Regions from separate parts of the Homo sapiens genome. Here all the other regions are linked to region 3. Evidence: fine-mapped expression QTL. A gene starts in region 3. Each other region holds a variant in brackets. All regions are shown on one strand. Distances are from middle to middle.

The links.
Region 1: its variant is fine-mapped to the expression of ZDHHC21 in whole blood (INTERVAL, PIP above 0.99).
Region 2: its variant is fine-mapped to the expression of ZDHHC21 in esophagus muscle (GTEx, PIP above 0.99). The same link has a PIP of 0.9 or more in gastroesophageal junction, sigmoid colon, thyroid, tibial nerve and transverse colon.
Region 4: its variant is fine-mapped to the expression of ZDHHC21 in thyroid (GTEx, PIP above 0.99). The same link has a PIP of 0.9 or more in adrenal gland and lung.

What each region holds. Positions count from the first base shown.
Region 1 is chr9:14,612,827-14,621,170 of GRCh38, forward strand. It overlaps ZDHHC21 (zDHHC palmitoyltransferase 21), which reads right to left. Exons shown (of 10, transcript NM_178566.6): 9 at 6,813-6,856; 10 at 1-6,272. The coding sequence ends at 6,140. Among named protein-coding and RNA genes, the nearest start is that of ZDHHC21, 76 kb to the right of the region's middle. The variant T/C (reference allele first, on the strand shown) is at 3,933.
Region 2 is chr9:14,659,896-14,668,239 of GRCh38, forward strand. It overlaps ZDHHC21 (zDHHC palmitoyltransferase 21), which reads right to left. Exons shown (of 10, transcript NM_178566.6): 6 at 2,320-2,431. Among named protein-coding and RNA genes, the nearest start is that of ZDHHC21, 29 kb to the right of the region's middle. The variant G/A (reference allele first, on the strand shown) is at 5,711.
Region 3 is chr9:14,689,018-14,697,361 of GRCh38, forward strand. It overlaps ZDHHC21 (zDHHC palmitoyltransferase 21), which reads right to left and starts at 4,415. Exons shown (of 10, transcript NM_178566.6): 1 at 4,212-4,415; 2 at 1,320-1,368. RefSeq lists silencers at 4,057-4,196, 4,277-4,346 and an enhancer at 4,420-4,920.
Region 4 is chr9:14,669,259-14,677,602 of GRCh38, forward strand. ZDHHC21 (zDHHC palmitoyltransferase 21) reads right to left here. Exons shown (of 10, transcript NM_178566.6): 4 at 4,929-5,127; 5 at 3,572-3,670. The coding sequence starts at 5,082. Among named protein-coding and RNA genes, the nearest start is that of ZDHHC21, 20 kb to the right of the region's middle. The variant A/C (reference allele first, on the strand shown) is at 3,396.

The DNA.
Region 1 (8,344 bases), 76 kb before region 3:
TAAAGCCACTAAAGATTACACACACACACACACACACACACACACACACACACACGCTGAACTCGATTTGTAATGAGAACGAACCTTAACTCTTCATCTTAGTATTTTGTTTCAGTATTCACTAAAGTGCCCAATAAGCTATATAGTTCATTTATATAAATTAGAGTTCTTACCTTTTTATTCATTGTTGCAGAAATAAAACAACTTGTGAAAAGTGCTTCAATTATCTTTTGTAATTTCAGCCTATCAAACTACCTTTTAAAGTAGCCAAGCTATATTAAAATACAAAATTAAAATCCATACATGCCTACCTAAAAAAAAATCCAAATGAGAAACATTTAAAATCCATTAAATTGCCAGAGCAGCATGCAAAAAATAAGATCTGTTAATCAAACTGTTCTTAGTAACATTAAATTCTACTTTATAAATACACAACGATGTGAGAAGAAAACTCAGTCAACCAAAAAGAAAATTAACTCTTTGGTACAGGAATTAAAAATGTCACTCAATGCTAAAGTGAATAGCACCAGGATGTTTTATAGTTGTTGAGGTTATAAAACACGAACTTCAGGCACCAGTAGGTTAAAATATCATCCAATGTATACTGGCAAGAATATATAGCTTGCAATACGCAGGTAAGCTTTCCCTTTAGTTAACAGCCTGCAAACAATTAAACCCTGTATTTGGTCAAACAGGCAGGCAAAGCCACAAAAAAGCCCACAACTTCTGTTAAGCTATTTTGTCCGCATCTTTGTTTATATATAAAGCTATCGATACCAAAAAAATCAGTGTTGAACTGTTATAAGAACGACATTACATGTTACAGATATTCAAAATACCAATAGAAATGGAGACCTTCGAGGTATCAAGAACTCCAAAATATCCCAAATGTTAAAGTGAAAGCCACCCTTATATATTGTTTATTTTTCCTCTGGTGACAAAATTTTCTATACACTCAGTATCTTTTCTTTGCAATAAGAGATTTCCAGAAAAGGTGCCAGTTTTTTCAAACTTTGGTCAACCTATTCATTTCTCCTCTGCATTAAATAGCTGAGTTTTCCACATTATTTTTAACACTTCACATGATCATACTCTACACAATTATATTTAAAACTAAAATATTTATAAAAGGCATCTGACCAACTGAAGAGAAACCGCAATATAAATTCTTTAAGTTAAATAATTCAAACTAAATGCTTATATGCACTAACAACTCTTCCCATAAAAATGGTATAAATAAGAGATAAGGCTAAAATGATTACAGCAAAGAGATTCTCTGATGTCAGAAACTGGCTCCAGTCAACTCTGTTGCTGAGATGCTGATTATTCATGCACCATCTAGCCTTCTCTCCATCTTAGTAAGTTTGTGGATACTCACTACTCATTTGTACCTATTCTCTAGGGTGGACAAGGCAAAAAGAACATAATAATAGTAAAAAATATAATGATAATGGAAAGTATCAGTAATATCAATGACTTTTTAAAATACCATTGTTATTTCTGTTTCAAATTAGCAGGCAGTATTGTAACATCTGAAGAACTGACAAAGATATAGTGAGTTTTGTTGCTAAAAATTGCACAATGATAATAAAAGAAGTCAGAAAAGTCACTTTCCTGAAGTTAAACCATCATCATCTCAAAAGGAGCAGAAATGCTAAATACTGATTAACATATAGAATTACAACACTGGTTCAAAATAGTTCAAGCAAGTTGGTTCTAATACTTTCTTATACTGTACTGTGGAATATTCTAGAATTCAACTGAGAATGACTAAATATAGAGCACAATGAAATCTGTGATTTATAATAAATTCAGAGGATGATTTCTAGAATAAAAGTTAACAAACTTGGGCATTAAATAACACATTCATTAATCATACAGTTAATACTAGCAAGTAGAACACATTAAATGTACATGGCTTATTTGCTACACTTACCAATACTTATATTTTTAAAGCAGTAGTAGAGTTGTGTGAAAATCTAATATTTGTATCTATTAGCAAACTACTCAATGTTTGTATGTGTGAATTTTATCAAATAAATTCTAGATATATCTATGTATATTAGAGGTCATGTCAGAAACTTATTCAATAAAGTAACTATAGGTTATTAAACTTGGTAAACTTGAGCTAAGTAATCTATTGATACAGGAAGCGCAAGAGAAGCAGAGACTAGAGAAAAGTCCAGAGAGAGACTAGCAGCTCTATTAATTAGTATTAATGGCATATTAAACCAGAGCTTGGTACATTGTGATTTTATAGCAATACATGTGAAAACACTCAAACTACCCCATGATCTAACACACAGAAAATTGTGTAGCTATAATCTAAATCAGTTCACACTTCCTGGTTTGAAGTGTTGTCCTAACTTAAGTCTTCATGATTAGCATTCAGAATTAATACACCCTTTGGAGTGAAACATATCACCCACTAGTTACTTGTATGGGAGTGACTTGAATGTGTAACAAAGAATAGTTATCATTAGCCATCATACTTAGAGAAAAATGCCTCTATGCATTGGCAAAAACGCACTGATGTTAATCCTGGCAGATGTTTTAACTCAGCTGTTATACTGAACATTACGTATTATGTTCTCTATTTCATTATTAAAAATAAACCATGCTTTTTTTCTGAAAAAGTTAATATGTTAACTACAATTTAAAACAGCTATTTCTAATGTTAAGCACAAATATTTGTAATACAACTCTTAAGCAAAATAGTATTTTTATTATAATGAAACATCAGCTAACTTGATATTTTTAAACTGTAAGTCTGGGTTACAAAGTACCAACTGCTCTGTAACTGAATGCCTACTGCTTGAAGGGTCCTGAACTCAGTCCATTTTTGCCTACAATCTTAAGCCTACATGAAGCCCATAAACATTTTTGTTTGCAGAAAACAACAATGACAAATATGATTGTTAAGGAGGTGTAACTTACAGTATCTAGGTAAAAACCTTTCATTTCCAGAAGGTCGACAAATGACTTTACTGATGTAAAAACATGCTTTAACATACATTTTGCTTAAAATCAAATAGAATGTTTATAAAGAAATACTTCAGTCCAACATACATATTACATCAGTAATCTTACTGCTCACAATTATTTTCTAATGCCCAACACCTTTAGTTGTTTTCAGTTATCCAGAATACATAAGAAATTGTTACTAAAACTATAGATATAACTCTGCGAAATGTAAAAAAAAGAACAAAGAAAAGGAAAATTATACAAAGAATCATTAATCTCTTAGTTATTTTAAGGCAATAGAGCCAGTAAAAAAATCATTTCAAAACTGAGTAAAATAAACTAAATGTAGTTTTTTAGATATTCATTAAAACACAGAAAATGCTTGGTTGTCTTTGTAGCTACAATACATTTCTATGTTTTGTAATAAATTGGTAATTTCAAAGTAACAGCTTTTCCAATTCTAAGGAATTACTCTGCCAAAATAAGGTTTAAAATAAAATACATAAAATGGCTTAGTTTATCCTAATCTGATATAAATTTGTGATTGATTGACAGCAAGAATATAATGGGAACGTACATAAATGAAGCAAAGCAGTCATCACATTCTTATGAACTAGAAATAACATCATAAAAACATGTTCATTTTCATAAAATTTTACATTTTTGTACATACACTCCTCCTAAGTTTGTACTTTTGATATGTTCAGAATGTGGCTATACTATTTACTTATGGGGCAGTAAATCTTTAGAGCCAGTATAATTACATCAATTAGCCAAAAGAGGGCGCAGAAACAACACCAGTAGATATGCTTAGCAAACTGCCAGTTGGTTTTTCTCTAGTAGTCTAATAAGAATTAACAAAACCCACAGGAGAGTTAGGTACGCTAACTGGGGAATACTGAAAGTTACAGTGTTAAGTATATATAGATATACTGTAATATACATTCTTATGTATATATACTGATAGA[T/C]AGCATTTCTGCATTCAAATAAAATAAGTGTATGCTTTTCTAGTATATTAGTTTGTAGTCCAATAATTTAGGGGAACTGAGTACAGAGGGATCAGGACCAGGAAAGGTAAAGAGGAAGAGGGAAAAGAATATGCCCTAGATGAGGTAAATCTAGGAAAAATAAGAGCACAAATCATCAGAGTGGGAAAGAGACCCTGCCCAGTACCCACTGCTACTACATGAAGTATAAATTAGCCACAAAGTTCTTTAGGTGATCTTCACTTGGCTCTGCTGTTTTCTCAAGGTCTTTATTTGAAAGGAATGTATACAATATAAGGCATTCAACTGATATCTACCTACCTTATCTATATATTACTTCCTTATGAACAGTTCTGTCACCAGGCCAAATGTGGCCAAATTAGCTTGCACAAAATCCAAACCCTTGTGCCTGACATGAACATTCTAATTTTGTGTTTCACTAAGCTTTATAAATATATTTCTTCTATTTAATTTACTACGTCTCTTTTCAGTACCAATAAATATGTTCGTCTGCTGTATTTCTGTTCGTATTTCTGAGTTTGTAAGTAATAAAGTATTCTAATTAGAACATGAAAAACATGATATTAACATCTCTGAGAAGAACTTACTCTATTATTTCAGAATATGCTACAAGATATTTACAATTTCTGAAAGAACTAACCACAGTATAGCCAACTGGCTGACAATGGTAACCTTCTGTTTAATTATTTCCCAGGTATTGTTCCTTACTTTCAAAACTAGCTAAAAGGAAAATGTTAGCATGGTTTATGAACAGTAGACTTTTTCAATCTTCTCTTCAAGGGAAAGACTGTGAGTACATAAATTTTTTAAAAAGATATATGGGTTTTGCAGTATTCTAATGGAAAAAAACTAAAAGCTGAGTTTTTTTCAAAGCATACTAAATGTCTTTTCATACAAATGTTCTATGCCTTGCAAAAGAACATCACTATTAGTAATTTACATTTGTACAAGGCTAATGATAAACACAGATCATTATATTTTCTTATTTTAGGTTCACTTCCTAACACTAGCTACTAGTAAAAGGTCTCTCAATGCAAATTACAGCCAGCCAATTAAAATTTAATTTTAATTTAGGGATTATAGGTACACAAAGTTAGTGACTTTTTTTAGTAGTAGCTTCCTATAAATAAAATTTCTATATGAGTTGGCCAATATATATAAACCTTCAATGTGAAATTTTACATCTACTAGTACATAAATAAAAGTAAAAAGTATACTCTTTTCAAAAGCACAATATTCCTCTTTATACTGTACATTATATACTATCTAGTTATACTAGCATTTTAAAAACATATGCATTCTAATATAACTGCACTAGAAAAGGTAATTGTGAAGTTATTGCAAATTCTCTCCCCTTTTTGCTCATTAAAATCTTAGGATAAAATAGGAATACATGCCCACTGGTCAGGAGTTCTCCTGGGAGCAAATATTTTAATCACAATCAATAATTACAACAGTAATAGTGAAAATTGAAAAAATTATTGTGAAAAAAATTTTAACATTTCCTTTATAGTAAGGTAGGTAGTTGGTGTTTTACTTCAGTGGTACTTTCATGTTGGTTTTGGTGAAGAAAAAAGAAGAAAACGTAAGCAAGCCACTCCTAAGAAACCAATGCCCGTTTTGTGTTGCTGTTGTTCACTCCTATGCTGCTGCATTTTTAAAAACGTTGCAGCACATTTAAAAGGAAAGGTTATTTTAAATTGGATTTGAAAAAGAAAATTTACCTATACTATAAGAAGGTGTATCAACTTTTGTAAAACCTGAATAATTAAATTTAGATTTGGTTACTGTTTAAAAGTGAAAATTTTAAATAAACATCTGAAATTTACCATAAATTAGAATCTGTAACACTGTCAGTACTAAAATAAATTATGTACAATTATTTCATCCTAATCACTGCCTTTTGAGTTTAATAACAAAAGCATTTCAAGAAATCCCTGTGGAAAGCTAATTTGAAAGTAAACATGCTTTAAAACTTAAATATAGATCTTGTATTAGTCCCACAACAGGATCAAGATCACTATTAAAATAAAGCCTGGGGCACATTATGATGCCTAAGACTGGTGGGTGGATTTTAATTGACTTGAAGACTGTCATAGTTCTATTATCATAAAACCTGTAACGCATTGCCAGCATGGAGGACCCATCTGTGCCCACCATCCATCTGTTTAGACATGATTGGCAAAGTGGTAGGGAACTCGCAGTGGTTGCCTCTGCCTGAAAGGAATGAACCACAGGATCTTCCAACGAGTGCCAAAAACTTCTGAGAAGGTCTGCTGCCATGGCTTTCGGGGCCTCGATCTACAGAAGACAGCATTATTAGTGAAAGACAGCACTCCCATGGTGCACTTCAGTCAGCTAAAACAATACAGATTGGCTGGGGATCCATTACTGGACTCTGATGAATTGTGTCCCAGCATCATAAATACAGCTTTTCTTTCATTATGGCATGCAGCTGAGTTTTAACTCTGGATAGCAGATATTGTATCTGTGTCGTCAATCAACCGAGCGCAACTTTTGAAGCAGAGGAAAATCTCAGGATTAACAGAATGTGTGTCAACAACACAGTAGCAAATCTCTTTTGATGTACTTTCAGGACAAATAATTTAACTTACTTTAGTTAGACAAGGCACAAGAATGATCAGCATTTTAGTGTGAAAACTACCATGGCTGGAAAACCCCTACTGTAAGACTGGGGTAGCTTGCCTAGCACAGGCCTCAGACAATGCACCAAGAAAAAGCCATCATTATATTATCTATCTACCATATGCACATATTTCTCAAGTATGTCCAGTTCTTTCCAATTTTAAATAATACTATACACTTCAGTTTTATACTTACATATCTTCACAACAGTTTGACATCTTTTCAATAGATGTTGTATCCTATTAAAAATAAAAAATTATATTCAGATGTAAGAAAGTTATTAAGTCTTTATTCTGTATCCACTCTATCATGTTTTTAATCTTATTCCAAAAATATTCTATAGATTTAAACAGTTTATATATGAGTATTATGAATTTTAAATTATCTTTCATACATTGCTGGAATCCCCTTGGAAAAACAAAATCAACATTATACTATGCAAAAAAAAACCTATTCAAATACTAAAACCTCACAAAAATTATGACAGTATCACTTCATTAAAATATAACCTTTTATTACACTTGCTTTCTTGACAATTCCTTTGAAAGTCTACAATCTACTTTCAATTTAACTGTCAGTGAATATGCATTAAAAAATAAATACTAAAATGACATATGAAAGAAACTAATGAACAGAAAACTGCCTAAGAGTCAGGGTGCTACTGGTTCTGGGTTTCTGTAAACAACAACAAAACTCAACAAGGCAATCTATGAATTTGCCATATTACAACATCTATTATTCTGAAAACTAAACTGACCAGAGTTCTTTCTTAGCGGAAAAAATAACTTTTTTGATAATACAATTCCCTAATTGTATGCTTTCTGTAAGGCTCTAACACAAATATGTAAAAAAAAAAATTTCAACAAACAGAAGATTGCTTCCAGAAATGCTGGTTTCTGTTATCAGAAGACTTATCATTAGACTGGCAAATTGTTATAAGCAATAGCCAAATAATCAAAACACAAATTACACAATCTTATTTTTAGATATTTATTTGTATTTTAAATATATTTTGAAACAGTGCAAAAGAGTACATTCATTCAAATACACCAAAAGCTGGAGAAGTTTTCCTCTTTTTATCCCTTACTTTACCTTAACACTTTGTTTATACATAGGTGGACTTATTTAAGCAGTACTATTCATGCAAACTCTTGCAGCTACAGGTAAAATCCCAAGAACTTATTTGGCTGCAAAACTTTTCCAATGATGCTAATAAACAGCACCTTCACTCAAAAACAACTCTTTAGAGATGTTAATAGCTCATAATATTAAATTCTCATTAAGAATAGTTGCATAACTACAGTTAGCCTATGTAAGAGAAAATCAGAGAAAATGGATCTATTTTTAAGATAACTAATAACCAACAACATAGTTTCATTTACACATTTTCCAGGAATTTTTAAAAAGTTATAGATTAGCTACATATTCTATATTCATTAGTTTTCCTATCAAGCTGTGTAATTAATGGTATCCAGTGACAATTGTATTAATAATTAACCTTTCTCTGCTCCGTTGCAATTTCCTCAAAATGTCTTACTTTATGAAAACACAGTCTACAAACATATGAGAACACTGATTAGGGTCTTAGAGGAAATTTGGGCTTCAGGTTCCACATCTGTAAAGGAAGTAAGTCATTTTAATGGTTTCTTAGAGTTTTGATAGTAACACATTGTTCCAAAGCAATTAAAACAACTTACACAAAAGTACGAAGAAAAAGATGAGATAGA
Region 2 (8,344 bases), 29 kb before region 3:
GCTCTTCAACAGCTGCCGATTGAAAGATGACTTATCATTGTTCCATCTTTCCTGTCCCCAGGAAGTTTGAGAAACAATGTCTATGATCACAGCATTCTTCTTAACCAGAACAGCTTTAAGAAGCACTAAGGTATTCAATCTATATGAGTTCTTTTTGTAACATCTGCACTACTTAGAAAGAATGATCAGGCCAGGCGCGGTGACTCAAGCCTGTAATCCCAGAACTTTGGGAGGCCGAGGGGAGCAGATCACCTGAGGTTGGGAGTTTGAGACCAGCCTGGCCAACATGGTGACAACCCGTCTCTGCTAAAAATACAAAAATTAGCCAAGCATGGTGGCATGCACTTGTAATCCCAGCTACTCGGGAGGCTGAGGCAGGAGAATCACTTGAGGCCAGGAGGCAGAGGTTGCAGTGAGGCAGAGGTTGAGATCATGCCACTGCACTCCAGCCTGGGCAACAGAGTAAGACTCCATCTCAAAAAAAAAAAAAAAAAAAAAAGAATGATCAGAGCCACAAATACAGAAAACCTTGAGGCAACGTGAGAATTGACCTCCAAACCTAAAAATGTCTTAGGCAGTTAAGTAGTGCAATTTCTGAAAACATCAAAAATTTTCCTTGCTTCCAATTTACACTGTACATTTCCCCTGCTCTCTGAACATTTCAGCAGTGCTCTATCAGGAAATTCAATGATAAAAATTCCTGAATCTCTTTAGGTCCCTTGTCTACTCTCCTTTCTGATCCTCCAATCCTTTGTACTTCCCCCTCACTGCTACCAACTTCTGAAAAGTTGACTAAAACTATGGAAGCAAGAGGCCCAGAAAGAGAAATCACCCCAACGTTAGAATTAAGGTTAAATAGCACCTTATTTGGTCACCAATAAGTGAGTCTTTCCTAGTTCTTTCTTACTACTGCATTCGTTTGAAAAAAAAAGCATCAATATCCACTTCCATCATGAACATTTGTATTTTAGTGAATAAGAAACTCTACAATAAGAAGCGCTTAAAAACTGAGCTTTTCTGTATGATCAGCAATTATCTGAATACATGTTTCACGTAGCTTTCTAAAAATCTATTACTATTGTGAGAGCAAACAGATCACTGAGCTTAAGAAAATTACTTGGGAATTAATCTTTATTCCCAAGTAATTCCCAAATAATTATTTACGTTTAAATTCAAGGCACAGTTTTGAATATCAACTATATGTCATACACTACTCTATCTTGTTGACAGATTTAGAAATTTTTAAAATTTTTATGTAGTAACAAAATGCTTTTATCGAAAATGCTCTTACTTTTTCCTATTTCAGGAAATTATCTTCTTTTTAAACAGTCTATGCAAAAAAACAAATTTCCACCAGAAGTTTGCTGAATAACTGTGCTATCAAAATAAGTTATCAAAAATAAAGAAAACTCTAAATAGACTAACATTAGAAAAAGCTAAACTCCACTTGCATCAATTTTAAATAAAAGCAATTATAAATTAAGAGGCTCATTATGTAAATTTGCATATATGCATGTATGTGTATACAAACATAAATACTACATATATGTATACAGATACATTTGTCAAATTCTACACTATACCAGTTTAAATATTTATACAGAGAGCCAATGCTAAGAAAACAGAATTAAATACAATATCTTGTTCACAGATTTTTGTGACAGCTTTAAAATGAGATACAATACAGAATTCACGCAGCATTTGTTTTCGAAGATTATATTTCTCAACTGAACATTTTCTTTAAATATTACAAGAGAGCCCCCTATTGACCAAAACTGTTAGCAGTTCTGCAGAATCAGCTAATTATCACTCACATACTTCCAACAAGTACATAATGGTAGTAGCTATATCCAATACATAATGCTTAAAAAGCTTTAAGGGGTAAGGAAGAGGTTATCAGGGTGTCTGAAATGTTATTAATTAAACAAATGAAAAGGGGATATAAACATTCGGATGCATATGGTTTATTACAATTAGAAATAGCTACCATTTAAGTACATCCTACTTGTCAGATATTGTAGTAAATGTTTTATATACATTGCCTCATTTAATACAACCACCTTAATCCTTTTGTATATCAGGCTGCAGTTAATTCTTACTTTTTTGGCTCAAATCTCTCCCTGTTAGAAAAGATAGGATTTCTGTGGAAAAATGACTTTGGGAGTTGACAGAACCATATAATCTAAATAAAGATATCCTTATTAAGATATTGTAAAACTATATAACTTTAACATAACTGTTGTTTAAAGCTGCCAAGTTGTAAGATTTACATTTTATTACCCACCCCTCTTTTCTTTGCTAGAAGTGAATTATTCTTACCATGGACAGTGATGATCCATTCTCCTCACACAGTGGCCGCAGCGGCTACAGTGATGGGAACGCTTTGGTCTCATCAAATTACACTTGTTACATAATTCCCAGAACTCCCTTTCTAAAGAAAAGAAATTAAAATCCATTTAATGAAGGCAAGTGGGTAATGCTGAAATTTACCAACAGTTGTTTAGAAGATTTTATAGGAAGCCTTCAACATAAAACTCTAAGAGATTTTTCTTCTAAGCCTTTGGTATAAATGTGTTTGCCATAAATGCTGCTGTTCTATTCTACATATGTCTTATTTTGTGTGTTTCTAATTTAAAAGACTAAAAAAATAAGACACTATTGTTATAGTCAAAGTAAGAGACAGAAAACAATGTATTTGGATTCTGGGTATACTGTGAGAATATAAGTAAAATCCAATGACAAAACCCTAGAGCCCAACCAAATTATTATACTAAAACAATTTTATTTAAACAAATTGATTTCTAGAAATTTCATTTTCTAAAGGCTCTAAAGAAGAAATAATGCTGACCCTGGTTTCAATTGATTAGTAAACTGAAATCAACCCTATAAACTCATCCGAAAAACAGATGGCATTTCCCTCCACATACACTTTCCCTAAATCATTTAATTTTAAAAAACATCAGTAGATTCATTTAAGAGTGTGTATGGGACAGGTTAGAGAAGGATGTCATATGGGTTTGGGAGGTATCAGAATAGTTTCAGTAGTGAAAAATGTTATAAGACAACTACTATTTTTAATGAAAATAAAGGAGTTCTTCATAAAACACTGAACTACCACCAACTAGCAATTTCCTCTAATCTGGAGTGAAACAGCACACGATTAAGCTCTGTGCCAAAAACACAAAGTTTGCATAAGAGAAAAGGCTTTTGTTTTCATTAAAAACTGTCCTAATTAGGTCCGCGAAAACTATGGAAGAGTCATCTTCCTAGAAAAGACAATTGCCTTATTATACAAAAATGTATCTTTTAAATATATTGGAATGGAATTTTTCTTTTACAAAATTCTTTTAATTTTCATCATCTGTGTTTATACTATCCCATAACCTCATTAAAAGTATGGACATAGTAAGATTAGCCTAACTCCTATATTCAGATTGAATTTTAGTACATGAAGAGTAGGACCCTAGCACATACTAGGTAGTCACTAAATGCTTGCTGACATATGAAAAGTCTAAAATCAAAAAATGAAAGATTCTAAATAAAAGTGAAAGATAATAGTAGACAATATTCAATTTTCTTTTTTTTTTCAGATTACAGATTTTTTTTTTTTTTTACCAATATTGATATTTTTATTTCTTTTTTTTCTCTTTTTTTTCTTCTTTTTTAAGATTCTCTGTTTGAATTCCATTACTTTAGTTGAATGGTCAGGAGCAACATCAACATGCTGGACTTTTATATAGTAAAGCGTTGGGAAAATACTCCCACTACAGACATCTCTGAAGAAACAAAGTATGAATAAAACCTACATCAAATTAATTGTTCCAATAATATGAAAGTTGAGAAATTATCTCTTATACTTGAAATCTTATTTTAAAAGAAAATACTTTTTCATCTCTTACAGTTATTTTAATGAAAATAAATCATGCAAGAGCAACAGTACTAAAGCTTAATTTACATAGTTAAACTAGTACTATTTACCTCTAAGTGAAATAAAAACTCATTTAATCTATAGCATATTACAATGTCACAAGCATATCATATTCCACTCCCCTACTTAGCTCAATGCTCCCAAACATCCCAGTGTTAAAACTTTGAATTCGGGGGGAGGAGCCAAGATGGCCGAATAGGAACAGCTCCGGTCTACAGCTCCCAGCGTGAGCGACGCAGAAGACGGGTGATTTCTGCATTTCCATCTGAGGTACCGGGTTCATCTCACTAGGGAGTGCCAGACAGTGGGCGCAGGCCAGCGGGTGCGCGCACCGTGCGCGAGCCGAAGCAGGGCGAGGCATTGCCTCACTCGGGAAGCGCAAGGGGTCAGGGAGTTCCCTTTCCGAGTCAAAGAAAGGGGTGACGGACGCACCTGGAAAATCGGGTCACTCCCACCCTAATACTGCGCTTTTCAGACCGGCTTAAGAAACGGCGCACCACGAGACTATATCCCACACCTGGCTCGGAGGGTCCTATGCCCACGGAGTCTCGCTGATTGCTAGCACAGCAGTCTGAGATCAAACTGCAAGGCGGCAGCCAGGCTGGGGGAGGGGCGCCCGCCATTGCCCAGGCTTGCTTAGGTAGACAAAGCAGCCGGGAAGCTCGAACTGGCTGGAGCCCACCACAGCTCAAGGAGGCCTGCCTGCCTCTGTAGGCTCCACCTCTGGGGGCAGGGCACAGACAAACAAAAAGACAGCAGTAACCTCCACAGACTTAAATGTCCCTGATAGCTTTGAAGAGAGCAGTGGTTCTCCCTGCACGCAGCTGGAGATCTGAGAACTGGCAGACTGCCTCCTCAAGTGGGTCCCTGACCCCCAAGCAGCCTAACTGGGAGGCACCCCCCAGCAGGGGCACACTGACATCTCACACAGCAGGGTATTCCAACAGACCTGCAGCTGAGGGTCCTGTCTGTTAGAAGGAAAACTAACAAACAGAAAGGACATCCACACCGAAAACCCATCTGTACATCACCATCATCAAAGACCAAAAGTAGATAAAATCACAAAGATGGGGAAAAAACAGAACAGAAAAACTGGAAACTCTAAAATGCAGAGCGTCTCTCCTCCTCCAAAGGAACGCAGTTCCTCACCAGCAACAGAACAAAGCTGGATGGAGAATGACTTTGACGAGCTGAGAGAAGAAGGCTTCAGACGATCAAATTACTCTGAGCTACGGAAGGACATTCAAACCAAAGGCAAAGAAGTTGAAAACTTTGAAAAAAATTTAGAAGAATGTATAACTAGAATAACCAATACAGAGAAATGCTTAAAGGAGCTGATGGAGCTGAAAACCAAGGCTCGAGAACTACGTGAAGAATGCAGAAGCCTCAGGAGCCGATGCGATCAACTGGAAGAAAGGGTATCAGCAATGGAAGATGAAATGAATGAAATGAAGCGAGAAGGGAAGTTTAGAGAAAAAAGAATAAAAAGAAATGAGCAAAGCCTCCAAGAAATATGGGATTATGTGAAAAGACCAAATCTACGTCTGATTGGTGTACCTGAAAGTGATGGGGAGAATGGAACCAAGTTGGAAAACACTCTGCAGGATATTATCCAGGAGAACTTCCCCAATCTAGCAAGGCAGGCCAACGTTCAGATTCAGGAAATACAGAGAACGCCACAAAGATACTCCCCAAGAAGAAAAACTCCAAGACACATAATTGTCAGATTCACCAAAGTTGAAATGAAGGAAAAAATGTTAAGGGCAGCCAGAGAGAAAGGTC[G/A]GGTTACCCTCAAAGGGAAGCCCATCAGACTAACAGCGGATCTCTCGGCAGAAACCCTACAAGCCAGAAGAGAGTGGGGGCCAATATTCAACATTCTTAAAGAAAAGAATTTTCAACCCAGAATTTCATATCCAGCCAAACTAAGCTTCATAAGTGAAGGAGAAATAAAATCCTTTACAGACAAGCAAATGCTGACCAATTTTGTCACCACCAGGCCTGCCCTAAAAGAGCTCCTGAAGGAAGCGCTAAACATGGAAAGGAACAACGGGTACCAGCCGCTGCAAAATCATGCCAAAATGTAAAGACCATCGAGACTAGGAAGAAACTGCATCAACTAACGAGCAAAATCACCAGCTATCATCATAATGACAGGATCAAATTCACACATAACAATATTAACTTTAAATATAAATGGACTAAATTCTCCAATTAAAAGACACAGACTGGCAAATTGGATAAAGAGTCAAGACCCATCACTGTGCTGTATTCAGGAAACCCATCTCACGTGCAGAGACACACATAGGCTCAAAATAAAAGGATGGAGGAAGATCTACCAAGCAAATGGAAAACAAAAAAAGGCAGGGGTTGCAATCCTAGTCTCTGATAAAACAGACTTTAAACCAACAAAGATCAAAAGAGACAAAGAAGGCCATTACATAATGGTAAAGGGATCAATTCAACAAGAAGAGCTAACTATCCTAAATATATATGCACCCAATACAGGAGCACCCAGATTCATAAATCAAGTCCTGAGTGACCTACAAAGAGACTTAGACTCCCACACATTAATAATGGGAGACTTTAACACCCCACTGTCAACATTAGACAGATCAACGAGACAGAAAGTCAACAAGGATACCCAGGAATTGAACTCAGCTCTGCACCAGGCAGACCTAATAGACATCTACAGAACTCTCCACCCCAAATCAACAGAATATACATTTTTTTCAGCACCACACCACACCTATTCCAAAATTGACCACATAGTAGGAAGTAAAGCTCTCCTCAGCAAATGTAAAAGAACAGAAATTATAACAAACTGTCTCTCAGACCACAGTGCAATCAAACTAGAACTCAGGATTAAGAATCCCACTCAAAGCCGCTCAACTACATGGAAACTGAACAACCTGCTCCTGAATGACTACTGGGTACATAACGAAATGAAGGCAGAAATAAAGATGTTCTTTGAAACCAACAAGAACAAAGACACAACATACCAGAATCTCTGGGACGCATTCAAAGCAGTGTGTAGAGGGAAATTTATAGCACTAAATGCCCACAAGAGAAAGCAGGAAAGATCCAAAATTGACACCCTAACATCACAATTAAAAGAACTAGAAAAGCAAGAGCAAACACATTCAAAAGCTAGCAGAAGGCAAGAAATAACTAAAATCAGAGCAGAACTGAAGGAAATAGAGACACAAAAAACCCTTCAAAAAATCAATGAATCCAGGAGCTGGTTTTTTGAAAGGATCAACAAAATTGATAGACCGCTAGCAAGACTAATAAAGAAAAAAAGAGAGAAGAATCAAATAGATGCAATAAAAAATGATAAAGGGGATATCACCACTGATCCCACAGAAATACCAACTACCATCAGAGAATACTACAAACACCTCTACTCAAATAAACTAGAAAATCTAGAAGAAATGGATAAATTCCTCGACACATACACTCTCCCAAGACTAAACCAGGAAGAAGTTGAATCTCTGAATAGACGAATAACAGGAGCTGAAATTGTGGCAATAATCAATAGTTTACCAACCAAAAAGAGTCCAGGACCAGATGGATTCACAGCCAAATTCTACCAGAGGTACAAGGAGGAACTGATACCCTTCCTTCTGAAACTATTCCAATCAATAGAAAAAGAGGGAATCCTCCCTAACTCATTTTATGAGGCCAGCATCATTCTGATACCAAAGCCGGGCAGAGACACAACCAAAAAAGAGAATTTTAGACCAATATCCTTGATGAACATTGATGCAAAAATCCTCAATAAAATACTGGCAAACCGAATCCAGCAGCACATCAAAAAGCTTATCCACCATGATCAAGTGGGCTTCATCCCTGGGATGCAAGGCTGGTTCAATATATGCAAATCAATAAATGTAATCCAGCATATAAACAGAACCAAAGACAAAAACCACATGATTATCTCAATAGATGCAGAAAAGGCCTTTGACAAAATTCAACAACCCTTCATGCTAAAAACTCTCAATAAATTAGGTATTGATGGGACGTATTTCAAAATAATAAGAGCTATCTATGACAAACCCACAGCCAATATCATACTGAATGGGCAAAAACTGGAAGCATTCCCTTTGAAAACTGGCACAAGACAGGGATGCCCTCTCTCACCACTCCTATTCAACATAGTGTTGGAAGTTCTGGCCAGGGCAATTAGGCAGGAGAAGGAAATAAAGGGTATTCAATTAGGAAAAGAGGAAGTCAAATTGTCCCTCTTTGCAGATGACATGATTGTTTATCTAGAAAACCCCACTGTCTCAGCCCAAAATCTCCTTAAGCTGATAAGCAACTTCAGCAAAGTCTCAGGATACAAAATCAATGTACAAAAATCACAAGCATTCTTATACATCAACAACAGACAAACAGAGAGCCAAATCATGAGTGAAC
Region 3 (8,344 bases):
GCCTGGTCAACAGAGTGAGATCCTGTCTCAAACAAAAAACAAAACAAACACAAGAACAACAAAAAATGCCCCGTTATCTACTTTTTTAAAGTCTGTGAACTAGTCAAAAAAACTTCAAATATTACAGCCCTTCGGCTAGTATCATACTAGCTGAAGTTGTATTTCTACACGTTGGTTAGGGGGATCTTTAAGAAGAAAACCGAAAATAGAGATTTGATCTAAAATAGAATGAATGAACTGAAGCCCCTAAACTAAATCACATTCAAGTAAAAGCAGGACTGGTGAGCAAAGGAATAAAGTGTGAAAGAAAATCAGTACTTGATCTCAGAAGCTAATAAAGAATGTATAATGCAAGCAGGGATTCTGAATCAATTGCTGAGTTTTCCAGGAAGACTTTGTAAAAACGTGGGTGGACAAAGTGTCAAAGCATAAAATACTTGCACTATCAATGGTTTCAAGAATCCACTCTGTAGACTAAGTCTTTAAATTACATTCTGGGCAAAATTGAGCATAAGCTGTTGCTCTTCTCATAAATTTGTTTTTGTGTGCACCAGTCTCATGAGTGAAAAATAAATGTACATGACTGTATTAGTAGTACTACACTGCAGTATTAATACTGCTAACACTATCCTAGTAGTATTACTACTAGTAGTATTAGTACTGCTAATACAGGCATTTACCTTTATTTTTCCCTGCTTGCATTAACTTGCTTTAACTTTAGAGAAAGTAGATAACTGGGCCACTGTTTTTTGGGTATGTTTGTCTGAGACAGGGTCTCACTATGTTGTCCAGGCTGGAGTGCTGCAATCACAGCCCACTGCAGCCTCAGTCTCCATTCTCCCTGGCTCAAGCTCACTTCATTAGAATCTTCTAACAAAAAGTAAAAATAGCTTGGGAGGTGTGGGGTGATACGAATTAAAGACCACCAAATATTGTTTCAGTCAGTACAAAAGGTCTCTGTGGGAATTTTCATTAGGGAGATAGGAGTGGGAAAAGGGACTGAAAAGGCAAGATTAAATGTAGGATAGGGACAGGGATTTAAAAAGGTAACTTTTGTTCCAAAATCAGCACAAGGAAAAAACCTTCAGATACAGTAAAAGCCAGAAATGAAGAGGCCCAGGCTTTTCCTGGGTATGAATCAAGTATGTTCTTCCAAGAAGGAAGGGAAGCCTGCTACTTACCTTCTAGTACCCACCACACCAAGAGAGATTGGTGGGGGGTTGGGGGTAGAAGACTAAATTAGATTTCCTTCACACCAGGCTTTACCAAAGCAGCCATGATTTAAGAACACTAACACCATAAGAAAAATCTCTCCTCACCTGCTTGCTGAAGCTGAAAATCCTGCAGTAAGTGAAAAAGTTCTTCATTCTGTAATTACAGATAAAAAGCTTAAAATCAGAAGCTTGGTTGACATCACACTTGAGCATTTTAGGTTAGATTTAAAATAAAATTCACCAGTGAATGGTAAAATATCAATTTTACCCAACCTGCCCTTTTGTAGAAGGGGCAACACATCGGTTAAGAGAGTCTCTGAAATGGGGAAGAAGGTTAATCTACCCTGAGAGAAATAGCACAGAGGAAAAAGCAGCTTGAAAGGCAGAAGGCAAACTTCAAAAATGTCACAATTTTGCCTAGGTTAGGTCTAAAGAGCAAAACAAACACATAAAGTACCATCATACTAAGGTATTTTTGTTCAGGGACCTATCAATGAGCACAGTGATGATTCACATGTCTATGAAAATGTGCTTTTTAAACTAGTCTGACTTGACTTATCAAGAATTCTTAACAAATCACTTTCAACAATAAAAACTGTTTTACAATTTCACCTGTATTTTTACCTTTAATAAGAGTTATTTAAGCACTGATTATTCTACTAGATGCTAAATTGCCTATTATATTTAATGCATGTGAAAAGTTGAATCTGAGCCCTAATGTTTTACTAAAACAACATAAAAGGTTACATTCCTTAATATAAAAGTAAAACTGAATTTAGGGAACAAACTCTTGGCAATAAAAACAGCCTTTCCTCTGCCTTCCCTCTTTTGCCTGGTAGTATTGATACTGCCACTGTGTCACCTCCTATGCTAAAAAAGTTTTCACTGAGTCACATTCAATTACAATTCCAGAAAAACAGCTCCATGTTGAGACATTACTCAACTTCTCAAGCAGTTTCTTTACTAAACCACTATATAATAAGACTAGCAGGAGGACAAACAATAAACTGCTCCTTTATTGACCTTCTCACTCCTCTCCTCTCAACCCAAAGAGGTTTTCGGGAAAATGGCTTATGGATGGCAGCAGTTTGCACTTGTTACTATTCACTATAACAGGTCCCTGGATTGTAACTGCAGAGACCATTTGAGTTACGGTCTTTTTCAAGCTATATGTGGGTCACATTTTATAAAACCATTATTTTATTCATGCATTTTTCCACAGGTTCTGAATCGGTCATTACGAATTAAAGAAATGAGGCAGTAGGCAAATAAGAAGTACATGTTATGATTCATTGATTCTTGTCTCAGAACTTCCTGTTAAGCTGATTATATGTCTGCATTTTTAAATGCTTAGATTTCTCTTATTAAACAAAGTACCTCGTAGGCAAAAGTGACACGGTCCTCATCATTTTCTTTAAATGACGCTCTATTTCATTTATTCCAACTACAGCTTCTCAAGTATGTTAACAGAAATCTCAGTAGTGTCAAAGGATCTAATAGAATTGTTTCCATCGAAAATGATGAATTCTGGAAGAGTACTACACCAAAACAATTATGGAATTATACATTTTAACTTATATTTTCATATTTTACTAATACTTCGTATATGTTTTTAATGTACCTTCAAACCACGTTAAAGGGTCTTATTTAAAAACATTTTCCAAGTAAGCATGGAAAAGCTAAAATAAGCCTTAAATAATTTAGTCTGGCTCTCTGATGGTATAGAGAAAATAACATGGGTCATTGCCCTACCTGTAAACCCACAGCTGGATAGTGACAGAAATGGGACTAGAATCTAGTTTTTCTTTCCACGACACCAAATCTCATTTGGCTCTTTCTTTCCAGTGGATTTCTCACCTCAATTCTTCAAATATCTTTTTGCTTTTAAGAGATGGCACAAACTAAGGAAAAACAGAGCATCTCTCCGAATTTTACCTTTAAAATAAGTAAAATCTAAAGAGTTGGAAGAATTTAATATTACACCAAAAGCCTTTTAATCCAGGAATGGCGCATACTAAGCAGTCATCAAATGGTGACTGTTATTAATATTATTCTTACCACAAGGAAAGCAGTGAATTTTTAAAAGTGCATATATTAGCATAGTAGGCTGAGGACCTATTTAACACATCTTTTTAAATTGCACTTAATTATCCTTAGTCGCCTTTGGACTGTAACTTTACAATATAATTTATGACCCGCCCACAATGACCTTGATTTTTTTTTCTCTTCTACTTTTAGAGACTGCTATATTGCAATATTTTAAAGTAATAATTGGTCATGTCCTCTCAGCCCTGGTGATACAGACATCCACCCTGACTCTCAAGGGATCTTAAAATGTGACCCACATATAGCTTGAAAAAGACCGTAACTTAAATGGACTCTGCAGTTACAATCCAGCGACCTGTTACAGTGAACAGTAACAAGTGCAAACTGCTGCCATCCATAAGCCATTTTCCGAAAACCTCTTTGGATCAAGAGGAGAGGAGTGAGAAGGTCAATAAAGGAGCAAACTGTTTGTCCTCTCTGCAGCTTCACACCAGAAGTCTGGAATGAATGAAAAGCTCTGGAATAGCACAGAGAAACCCGGGATCCCAGTGCAGGTCTCCAGACGGGGGTGCGGGGAGAGAAACTGTAGTTTACAAGCGAGAAACTCAGGATACAGATTTAAAATAAATAAATAAATAACTAGCCAACATCGTCTCGACTAGAGCAGGAACCCCCCACCCCCAGTTGAGGGAGGAGCACTTAGCAAGGGGCTGTAGCTCTAGCAGAAGACGCTCTGAAAAAGGCCAGGCCTGGGGCGGGGAGGCACCGAGAAACCCCCGGGTTCCAAACAGAGCAGGTGCAGGGGGCGTGCAGGAACAGGTGAGGGCGTCCCGGCGCGGAGGAGCGGCGGGCGGGCCCGGCAGAGCGGAGCGGGGGCCGGGGATGGGGGTGGGGGTGCGGATGGGGATGGGGGTGGGGGCGGCCGCTTCGCCCCCGCGCCTGCACACTCACCGTCGCCGCTGGCTCGCCTCTCGCTGCCGCCGCTCTCCCGACCGCCAGCAGCTCTTTCCCCTCCTCCTGCCGCGCCACCTCCGCCTCCTCCGGCGCCGCCGCCCAGGCCGGGCCGCTCTCCCCTTCCGCTTCCGGGAGCCTGAGGGCCTGGACCGGCCGAGTGGGTGTCCGCATGCCCGCGCGCCCGCGTGGGGAGGGACGACTGCCGCCGTCGCCGTCTCGCTTAGCTCCCGGGAGCCGCGATGGGAGCCGCTGAGGGCCGAAACTCCTGCAATCGCGCCGCAGCCCCAGAGCCGCGGACCCAGGCAGACCGCACTCTCCAGAGCGCTTGCACCTGGCGCGCCTGGGCGCCTCTGCCCCTCCCCAGCCCTACTTGAGCCGTCCTTCTCATTGTCCCCATATCCTCACTGCTCACCTCTCCCGAGAGACAGGATGGGGGCCTTAGCTTAAAAGATTGCATGTATCCTTTCTTCGGGGGATGTGGCCAGCAGGCCTCTCTCCCCGCAGGTGTTCTGGGATGTCCCATGGTACCTTGCTTCAAAGCGCGGTCTGCAGCATCAGCATCCTCTGGGAACTCACAATCTTTGAAATGCACAATTTCAGGCCTGCTGAATCAGTACATGCACTTCAGCAAGATCACCAGGTGACTCCTGGGGTGCACCGTAAAGATGGAAAAGCATTGCACTGTAGTGCATGGTCTCGTCCACTTCAGACCCTCTATTGGGTTGCCTCAGACATCCCAGGATATTTCCTGTTCCTGTCCTCAACCTAAATCCACACCCAAACAATCTTTTCTTATATTTTGGGAGACCTCCAAAAGTTTCCTGCTTTCCCATCCCTGCAAAAGCCGACAACTTTTGGACTCAGCGATGCAAGTAATCCACCTCTCAGTCTAACTTGGTATCTTCACCAAACACCAGAGATCTACTAACTTTCCCACCTCACTCCGGCTGAACAGTATTTGGGGAAGGTTAAACCGTTTGCAGTAATGTGGAGCTAGATCTTTCTGCCCACGTGCCACAGGAGGAGACAGTGTGTTGGTGGAAGAAATATTACCTGTTGTATAAAATCTGTATTCCTTATAAGATGTGCTTAAAAGCCCTCCACAGACACATCCCTACCTACCTCTCCAGTCTTAGCTCCAACTAATTTGGTTCATTTCCCCATTCTAGAATGCCCTGCTCTCTGATGATCTTAACCCTATCCAGATTTGAGAGTGGAAATCTTGCCAAACCAGAGTTCTCTCACCACTGCCCTTATATAGTGCACATTGTTGCCTGTTTGGGGCCTCATATTACCTTGTATTGCTAAGGATTTTTAAACATGTTGTGTCCTGGTTTCTGAACTAATTATAAACACCTTGTGACCTTAAAAACTTTGGTCAGTGGTTATCAAAGTGGGATCCCTAGACCAGCAGCATCGGTATCACCTGTCAACTTGTGAGAAATCCATATTCTTTTGCCCCATCCCAGATCTACTGTAGTAGAAACTGTTTAGGTGTAGCCCAGCAATCCGTGATGTAACAAGCCTTTTAGGTGATCCTAATACACACTCAAGTTTTAGAATTACTGACCTAGATTACTAGATATTCCCAAAAGAACCCAGTGGTAGGAATTGATTTACCCATAAGCAGATTTTATTGCCTTTCAGGTTAACAAATACACTCCCCGATATATGCATAGCGAGGTTGAAAGACTAGTCACGATTGCTTTTGATAGAATTACCTTTATTTTTCATAAATCATTTGATGTAGTAGGATTTTTGTAACTTTCTCTGTTTGAAAAGAAGGAGATATTTCATATAAACAATCACTTTGAAGGAAGAGGAAATGTGGAATCCTCCCACCGGAATCCAGCTACCTGATTGCGTATTCAATGTGAATCCCTTCTACCCAAATCCAGCTACCTGATTGCATATTAAATGTGGACTCCTCCCTACCCGAATCCAGCTACCAGAATTGCATATTAAATGTAAAATCCCCCCCCCACCCAAATCCAGCTACCCAATTGCATATTAAAAGTAGAATCCCCTCCACCTGAATCCAGCTACATGAATTGCATATTATTTTGCTTTCTCTTCAGATACCCCTGTGAGAGGGAATAATTTGTGACAAGTGATCTCAAAACTGCCAAAATAAGAATTAGTTGACAGGTCCATGATTGCACATGACAATTGGAAGTGCATGGATTTTTCAGTCCCTTTTTAAAATAAGTTAGCCTGTCTTTTATCAGCCAAATCAATTCCACAGAGAATTTTTAAGCAAGGGAATAGGAGAGAAGAGGCAGGAGAAACATCCTTAAAAACATGAACCTTTTTAGCATGGGCATTTCATGAGTATAATCAAAGGCCTGCCTATCCCTTACACTGAAGGTCAAGTCATCTGGTTCTATCATTCATGCTAATCATTGGTTATATTGTATTGCAACCCATACATTCAGGCACCTGGGTAACAATAAGGGGGTGAGGGAGATGTGGCATCAGGTAATCTTTTGAAAAGATTTTCTATTTACTGGGTATATTATGGAAAGACGATATAGATCGTACCATATTTTTTCCCTCCAGAATTCTAATCTACTTCATGGGGCCTGGGACAAACTGAAATGTGATTATTAATCAAACTAATATTTATCTGGAAGTAGAAAAAGTAGACAAGGACAAGTAGCATTGCTGCCACTGCCAACCAAGCTTCTAACAAAGGCACACTCAGGGCATTTATGAGGGTAAACACAGCCAACTCCTGTGCTTCTGTGCCGTGACTAGGGAGGATCTGGATTTTAGTGCAATTTCCAAAAATCAGTGCAGTCCAGAGTTTAATCAGTACTGGCTAATAGCCCTTGGCAGCTTTGGATGGATGGCATTCTCCACCTGCCCAGCTGGGTACCATGCCTTAAGCACCCATATTTGATGCACATTCATGATTTCTTGGTTGCCTATAGTTGTCTCTCCCATCTGTTTGAGTGGCAGAGTGCCTGTGCCATAACAATCTAATATTCTAAAAGTTGTTCTTAACCTCTTCTCTTTTGGGTTACACATCTCTTTGAGTATCTGATGAAAGTTGTGGACCCCAGCAAAGTACACATATACACAAATACACACACACACACACACACACACACATATATACACACACACATACAGGAACATATATATTTATATATATGAAATTTATATATATGAAGTTTCACAAGTTGCCCCACCTTCCTATGCCTCCAAAGGATCACAGCGAAGCCAGGAACTTCAGGCTAAGAAATATCCCTAGAATGTAGAGAGTAGGTAAAATAAACATTTTTCCCCAAATATCAAGGAAAACTGCAAAACAAACAAACAAAAACGACTGTGTGCTTAGGAGAAAAAAACAATAGCAGTGCTAAACAGAGTTACAAGGAAAGTTTTATGGAAGTGCTAATGAAGAAACTAGTAATTTCCATGGGATAGTTCAAGGGTGGCTTCTTGGAGAATGGTTCCTGTATCAGGCAAGTGAGAATAGGATTTTGATTGGGGGAAAGGAGGGAAAGAAATTTCAGGACAGAGGAAAGTGTAAGCAAAAACATAGAGAAATGAAAGTGCAAGAATCCCTCTGGTGTGGCTCAAAGGTAGGATACATGGAAAGAGAGAGGGCTGGAAATGTGGAACAGATTCCAAGCATGGTGAGCCTCAGAAACAATGCTATTCCCAATGAAGAGTCCTTAGGCTTTTGGCAAAAGGTGATGACCTGCTCCAAGCTGGAAAAGACTATTAGTGAGGGCAGTGGTATTATCAAAAGGCAGAGTAGTGGGGCATCTGGAAAGGTTCTAAGTATACTACATTGGAACCTGTTAGGCCACATTGCTTTACCTCAACTTTGGATTGTTTGATGGTGGCTCTAGAAGTTTCTATTCAATTAAATCATGATGAACCTGAGATTCTTACACTTGGTTAAGTGCTAGTAGGAAAACGCATCCTAGTGAATGTTCTGATGAGTTGAGTCTAGGATGCTGAAAGAGTTAAAATCTCTTTTGGATTAAAAGAGTGAGAATCAATTTGGACTGAAAAGAGAAAAGAAGCCCTGCCACTAATCAGACAAGGAGGACAGACACAGATAAAGCCAGCTGCAAAATTAGCAGGAAACACTTTCTGCCAAGGTCATGCAGCAG
Region 4 (8,344 bases), 20 kb before region 3:
TCATCACTGGCCATCAGAGAAATGCAAATCAAAACCACTATGAGATACCATCTCACACCAGTTAGAATGGCGATCATTAAAAAGTCAGGAAACAACAGGTGCTGGAGAGGATGTGGAGAAATAGGAACACTTTTACACTGTTGGTGGGACTGTAAACTAGTTCAACCATTGTGGAAGTCAGTGTGGCGATTCCTCAGGGATCTAGAACTAGAAATACCATTTGACCCAGCCATCCCATTACTGGGTATATACCCAAAATGACTATAAATCATGCTGCTATAAAGACACATGCACACGTATGTTTATTGCAGCATTATTCACAATAGCAAAGACTTGGAACCAACCCAAATGTCCAACAATGATAGACTGGATTAAGAAAATGTGGCACATATACACCATGGAATACTATGCAGCCATAAAAAATGATGAGTTCATGTCCTTTGTAGGGACGTGGATGAAATTGGAAATCATCATTCTCAGTAAACTATCGCAAGAACAAAAAACCAAACACTCCATATTCTCACTCATAGGTGGGAATTGAACAATGAGATCACATGGACACAGGAAGGGGAATATCACACTCTAGGGACTGTGGTGGGGTGGGGGGAGGGGGGAGGGATAGCATTGGGAGATATACCTAATGCTAGATGACGAGTTAGTGGGTGCAGTGCACCAGCATGGCACATGTATACATATGTAACTAACCTGCACAATGTGCACATGTACCCTAAAACTTAAAGTATAATAAAAAAACAAATAAACAAAAAAAAACAAAACAAACAAACAAAAAAACTTTGAATTCACACATTGCAAGGAATATAGACAGGAAGGAGGCGCTCCACAACGAGCCAATTTTCACTAAAAGGCGATATAAAAATTTGTTTTTATCAGCCACTTAAAACATAAACACGGTGTATTCATTATTGGTAATTTCTGAGAAATCAGCATATAATATCCTAGAGAATAAATTCTTCATTTTATATCTAAAATGTATTCTCAGAAGAGAGCACTTGGCAATAGTTAGAGAAAGCCTACAATTTTGTAATCTAGACCACAGATACAAACTACAGTCTGCAGGCAAATCCAGTCTACCACCTGTTTCTGTATGACCTATGAGCTAAGAATAATTTTTACAATTTTAAATTATTGAAAATAACAATTTGTGACATGTAAAATCATAAAATTCAAATTTCTGGGTCCATAAACAAAGTTTGATGTACCCATCATTTACATATTGTCTATGGCTGCTTTTGTGTTTCAGTGGCAGAGCTGAGGAGTTGTAATAGAGACTGTATGGCCCATAAAGCTGAAAATATTTACTACGGGCCTTTATAGTAAAGAAGAATTTATTTGCTAATCTATGGTCTGGACCATAAATTGATTTAAAGAAAGAACTTGAGTCATTCCTTTGATAACATGAAGATATTACATAAGTATCTAAAATGAGAAATACCTGTAAAAACTCACAGTTTCACATATCTATATGAACACATACATATCTATATGTTTAGGGAACAGAGGAGAAATCACTATTGTCAAAAATCCAGCAATTTAATTGATCATCTAGAAGGTGCTTTTGCCTTGTGTAGCAAGAAAAAAAATCCATCCATCTTAACACACCCTACATATCTCTAAAGCCTTTCTTAGTCATTTCCCTTTCCTTCCTTTACTCATGTCCACAAAGGATCTTGGCGACTGATACATTCTGATGTCTAGTGATTTTTGTACTAGCCAAGTAATAATGTTTTTAAAAAGACTATGAGAAAAAGAATTCAACTGAAAATTTATGATAGCTTTAAAAAATTAAAAGCTAACAGATACATTTTTAAGGGAGAGAAAAATCAAAATATAAAACAAAACCAAAAAAAAGGCAAACTCCATGACTGAGGCTGTTTAATGTGAGTAAATACATCATTTTGTTTAACCTGGAGATTTACTAATGCTGTGAATGCTTGAATGAATATAATGCAATGCTTGGTTTGTTTGACCCTCAGAAAGGAAGGAATCACCTTCTACATGAGTCTTTTAAAAGACTCTCATTTTAAGGGACCCTCACTCAATTAATACATTTAAAATCACTATGTAATGCTTTGAGAAGAAAAACATTACTTGAAATTACCTAAATCAATACAAAGTTTGGGTCCTAACAGAGATTCCCTAACAAGAATCAGTTGTCAATGTAGGAAATAAATGTCAGTAAGTCTCTCACAGATCACCTTTAAAAAGCAATGTAAGAGGGAGGATCAAACTAAAACTATGAGTGAATACATGACCCTGATTACTGAATACAGGAATCCTTAGAGCTTGGGGTAAATTTTTGAGAGACTGCATCAAAACAGGACGCATTTTTTTTAACTTGAAAGAATTTCCACTGTAATGCTATGTCAAAAAACATGGCTCTAGTAATGACAAAACCACATGTCGAACATTCAAGTGAAAAACTCGATTAAAATGTTCTAAAGTTGATTGCAGTGATGGTTACACAACTGTGGGCATACAAAAACCCATAGAATTGTACACTCTAACTGGGTAAATTATATGGCATGTAAATTATACTCAATAAACCATTTTTAAACATAGTTAAGAACTTGAATAAAATTTCATAAAATATGAAAGTGATAAAAATATTTCTAACTGAAGGTGTTCATTTTGTTTTATTTCAAATACACACATGAACAATTCAAGTAATATAAACAAACATGTAACTATTTCATTTGACTGTTTCATCTATATGCTCAAAAGTTTATAAAGTCAAATTCTGGGAATCTTCTCATGGGAAAATGGAACATTTCCTTATATTCAAATTGCCTCATATTTAGTGGGTCACATATATACTGAAGTCATTGTGTTTTAAAAAAGCAGAAACGCATGTAAAATACTTCAGAGTAATTCAATAAAAAAATAGTTAAAATCACCAAAGTATTAGGACTTCAAGATCCCTTTTTTGAAGAATTCAGTTATATGAAACTGCTCAACCTTTAAACATTCCTGAATAAATGTCACTATTCTACAGTTTCAACTCTCTAGGCATTCAATATTATCTTTCACTGTTAAAATTTTGTATTTTTTTTTACTAAATTAAAATCATATTTACAAAAGAATCAGGTAACCAGCACCAAAAAGTACATTATGACTTAAGTTTTCCCCAGATTCGTAACAAAGGTGAATAAAAAGCTAAAATTATCTCTGTACATAGATCCATGGTAATAAGATGACAGAGACAAGGTTCTGGGTCTTTGGGCTGGATCGCACACCAACAACCAGATGTTTAACCCAGGAAGGACAATCTATGCTCCTGACCACCCAGCCTACCTACCTCATACAATTACCATGAGGATCATATGATATGTGATACAGAAGCCAAGAGATGGGGTGTGGTGAAACTGCCGGGGTGC[A/C]GGGGGAGCAGGGTTGCAATTTTAAGTAGAGAAGTTTGGAAAAGACACATACAAGCAAAGACATCAAAGTGGTGTTAGATGACATTTATAACCAATATATATTAAAGGCAATAAAATATGTAAATAAAGACAGTAATTCTGGCATCAGCAAAACTGATAAATCCAGAGTACCATACCTCCATGTGGGATCTTGGGGTTCTCAGGGAGTCTTCCTGGATCAGTTATGGAGGCCCTCACTAAGGCAACCAGACAGAATATGGAAATGCCATAGAATACTTTAAAATAAATAAATTAAATAAATTAGTCACTTACCCTTCAAAACATTTTATCAACAATCATATTTAAAGTTTAAAATGTATATTTTAACAAACACCATCAGGAGAAAAAATTTCAAAAGATTAAAAAATAAATAATTGATTTCACTCACCAAATAACACTGTCAGGAGGACTATCTTAAATAGTCCTAATTTTAATCATTACTAATTTTAATTATTATTTTACATGATAGTAACTCAAAGTTCTTATAAATCAGATCCCTTAATAACAGGGACTTCCTATTAATAATGGCATAAATGAATAGGCTCCCGTTTAATTACTGCATGTTCTATATTTGAAAGGATCAAAATACCATTTTAAATTCTACAACTAAACTTTTTCATTAACTAACTGGGTATCTTCAATATTACTCTGAATTAGTGATGTTCAACTGTCCCTTTTGATGGATCTTAAAATGATTAGTTTGATAATTAAGACTTAGAAACTTTTTAATTTTAAAATTAATAACCAGAAAACAAAAATAGTAAGGGAAAACAGATTTGGCCACCATAATTCTACATTTTTAAATTAGTAAGAATAGAGAAATTCTGTTGGGGCGATAAAAAAAAAAAACATACTGTACATGTAAAGGGAATAGTCTGAGTGCTCAATCCAGGACTGACTGCATAGTACCGGTCAGTTTTATCATATATATATAAAATTTCCCATGGTTCGTGTGAGGTCAAAATGAGGTAATGTGCATGAAAACTGTAAATGCCATGTACATGTAAAATATATAATTTCAATTTATTTTAATCATAAGCAAGCCATCACCAATTGACTAATAACTATCCAGAAGTTCCAAGTGTTATCATAATCAACTTCGTAATCAATACTTTTCTTATGAAATTCTCACTTCTCAGTAATGTATACTGTCTCTATTCTTAAAACATCTACATTTGTAATTAGGTACAAAACAGCAATAATAAAAATACAGAGAGACATGCAAGTTATCACTACTGTGTCAGTTTTCTATTTTTAACAAAATGGTCTTCATGCACTTTGCAGTTAAAAATGGAGATATCACTTTTATCTAACTGCAAATCTATAAAGGCCATTATTTCCATAAGTTCATAAATTAGTAAATAACTGAATATTGACAGCACTGCTAAAATACTAAATATATTAAAAGGAAAGTTATCATAGTGGCACTACACCCCAAAAACGTTTACAATGAGAAAAATAATTATACAAGAAAATAAAGATCAAGAAACTTACTTATTATTAATATGCCTGGAATATGTCCTTCTTCATAGTGAGGAAAGAGGACAATTTTGGGAATTAAAACAATATTGTATAACCAAACAAAGACAATCAAACCCATGCAGCACCAACCATGTGGGTCAACAACAAAGTGAATCCGGAGACCCATTTTGCAATCTTATAACTGCCTGCTAACCCACAAGGAAGGATGATCCTAAGGAGAAGGAACAAAGAAAATAATTACTTACATAGAAAAATTTGACTAAAACCTGTATTTCTGGCAACTTTTATAAAATGACATTGAGTTTTCTTTGCATATTTGACATTTTCTTTCTGTAGTTGATATATTTATTGATATTTCTTTGTATATATATTTTTACAATAAATACTTGGGAAAACAAACAGAAGTTTCAGGATATTCAAATTTTATCATAAGCTTCAAATAATTTCAATGTTTCACTATGAACTGCTATCACAGGTATAAACTGGAATCATCTACTGAATTTAAAACACAAGTTTGTCCTTAACCCAGCAACTTCCTGTGTAAACCCAAAAGAAATGAATACACGTGTCCACCAAAAGATTATGTACAAAAATTTTTAGTAGCTTTAATCAGAAGACTGATGGGTCACACAAGTCAAAACAGTGGTTACCTTGTGGTTGCAGGGGTGTATATTAACTGAAAAGGAACATGAGAGAACGAGGGGTTGGGAAACGTTCCATATCTTGACCTGGGTGGTACTTTATGTGTATCTACATATGTAAACATTCACTGAGCTGTATACTTCAGATTTGTGCACTCTAGTTTAATTTTAAACTACAATAAAACATTTTTTAAGTATTTTGAAAAATGACAATAAAAAGTGAAAACTAATTACAAATTGCCAAAAATACTAAAATTCATAGAATGAAGCCCAACAAATCTCATTATGATCAACTGAAGAAGACTCCTGTTTAAATGAGGCTTTTTTTAGTTGAGTGTTAACAATATGCCAACAGATCTCTCAATGAGACACTTAAGGACTTAAAATACTTCTATATAAATATGGTACCAAAAAAGTGACTAAAAATACATCCATACTTTGGTAGATATAACTTCCAAGGATGAAATAATAAATTGCTGTATAAAGTCTAGGGGGTACCTTTTACGTAAAATACAATGGTATAATAATAAACTAGGACAACGGTTCTCTAGCCTGTAAGAAAACCAAAAACACCTGGGGAGCTTTTTAAAAATACATATTCCCAGACCCCATTCTACATCTACTGAATCATAATTCTTCATAAAACTCAAAAAACAATAAAATGTTGTAAAATGCTCTGCAAGAGTCTGAAAACAGCTGACTGGTGTCTAGGAAGCACTGACCCATGAGCTTCACTAACACTTCAATGTTACCACAATGAGTTGAACTCACTTAGTTCAACAAATATTCACTGAGCCTCCACTACACACCTATCACTTGCTAGACACTGCAGATACAATGATGAAGAAGACATGGTCTTTGCTTAAAGGAACAGTCTAATGGGAAAAAGAATCAGAAAAAAGATTTAATATAATATGGTAAGTTCCAGATTTGAAAACAAAATGTTAGTAGGGGCACAGAAGATGGGACCAGTTAAACGAGGAATCAAGTAAGACTTACTGTAAGAAGTGAAACCTGAATTCAGTCTTAGAAGGTTAGTAAAAGTTATCTAAGCAATGAAAAGTGACAAGAATACTGCAAACAGAAGGAATAGGAGGAGCAAGAGTAGAAATTGTGGGAGGTATTACAACCTGCCATCACAAATCATAAAGCTTTCTGTGGAGAGTGAGTGCTAAGAAATATGGGCCTATATCATGAAGGACATAAAGATGCCATGTTAGAATGCTAAGACTGAATTCTTCGGCAATGGAAAGCTATTGAAGCAGGGGATTAACATGACGAAATGTGTACCGTGAATAAATTACTGAAGCTCTGGTGTGAATGATAAAATTAAAGACAGAGGTCCATTAGGCTAAGAGAAGGCAAAAGCCAAAATTAGGTTTGCAGAAAGGAGCAACTGCTAGAATCGAACCAGTGTGTTTTTCTGGTTGATTAGATATTAGGGGTTACAGGGGAAAGTGTCAAGGGTGATTCCCAGATTTTCAGCCTATATCCCAGTCTACTTCATTCTAAGAACAATTCATAATCAATTGAAAAGCCTCAGGGCACCATCCCTTAGAGGCCTTGCCCATGTTCTTCAAAGCTATAAAGCTACTGAAACAAAGAAAAAGAGATTAAGGAATACTTGATTTTAAAGGAATACCCCCAGTTTCTCATCCCTAGTTCCTGCAAATATTGGGGCAGCAGAAAAAAAACAAAAAACAAAACAAAAAAAGAACTCAAATGTAATACCACTTAATAGTTTAAATCCGGTATGTTCTAACTTGTGTATGAATTCTAAAACAGAAATAGTGCCCAGGCCACTAAACTAATAAAAGTTTCATTTATTTATCTTTTAATTTAAAAATCAAAAGACAGATTGGTATCATTAAAATGAAGAAAGTCAGACAGGATAAAGCATGCTATTTAATTTGCTAAGAATCATTTTAATAAAGGAATCTCAAATACAAATGGTAAGCTATCTACACAGTTAAAAAGAGAAACATTCAAGACAATGTTAATTTTTTAGTCTTGCCAATTATCAAGTGCTAAAAGAAATGACAAGTGCTCTCTCAACGTGTTCAATATTATTAATTTTATGTACCTTTCTTTCTTTAATTTTTCAGTTCTATTCAGGACTAAAAACAGAACATGAATTTCACTAAGTATATATGAGAGTAGCTTAAATTTATTAACATTAGAAGCAGAAAAGTACATGAGCCAGCAAAACGACTGGCAAAATTATCAAATATTAATTTTTGAACTCTATTTTTATTCTCCTCTACTAGAGAACAAATTTTTCTTCATCACTGGAAGAGATCTCTCACAGCAACAAAAAATTACATAGTGAAAAGTATAGTTTAAAATATGTCCATTTTTCCTGGATGTAAACATACATAGATGACACTCTCTAAAAGAGCAAGCATCCCTAAGGAAAAGTGAGCACAGGATAGAAAAATAAAACAACAAACAAATAAGATGTTGAATATATTTTTTTTAATACCTGATTGGTAAAACTTAGCTCCACATAATCCTCTCAATTGGGTCGTAGAACACAAAACAGTGATCTTCCAAGTGCTCCAAATCAGACGACAAACCACAAATGCATAACTGGAAGAGGTGCAAGATCTCTCCACTCAATTAATATCTACCAGGCGTGGCTTATGGCTGAAGAGAAACTATTACACATCCTGAGCAACAACCAAACTGAACACAATGCTGTTACTCGGTCTTAAGGACAGCATTCATAAAATACTTTCATTAGCTGGAGATTCTGACATACTAATTTGTATATTAAATGGTGAGCTC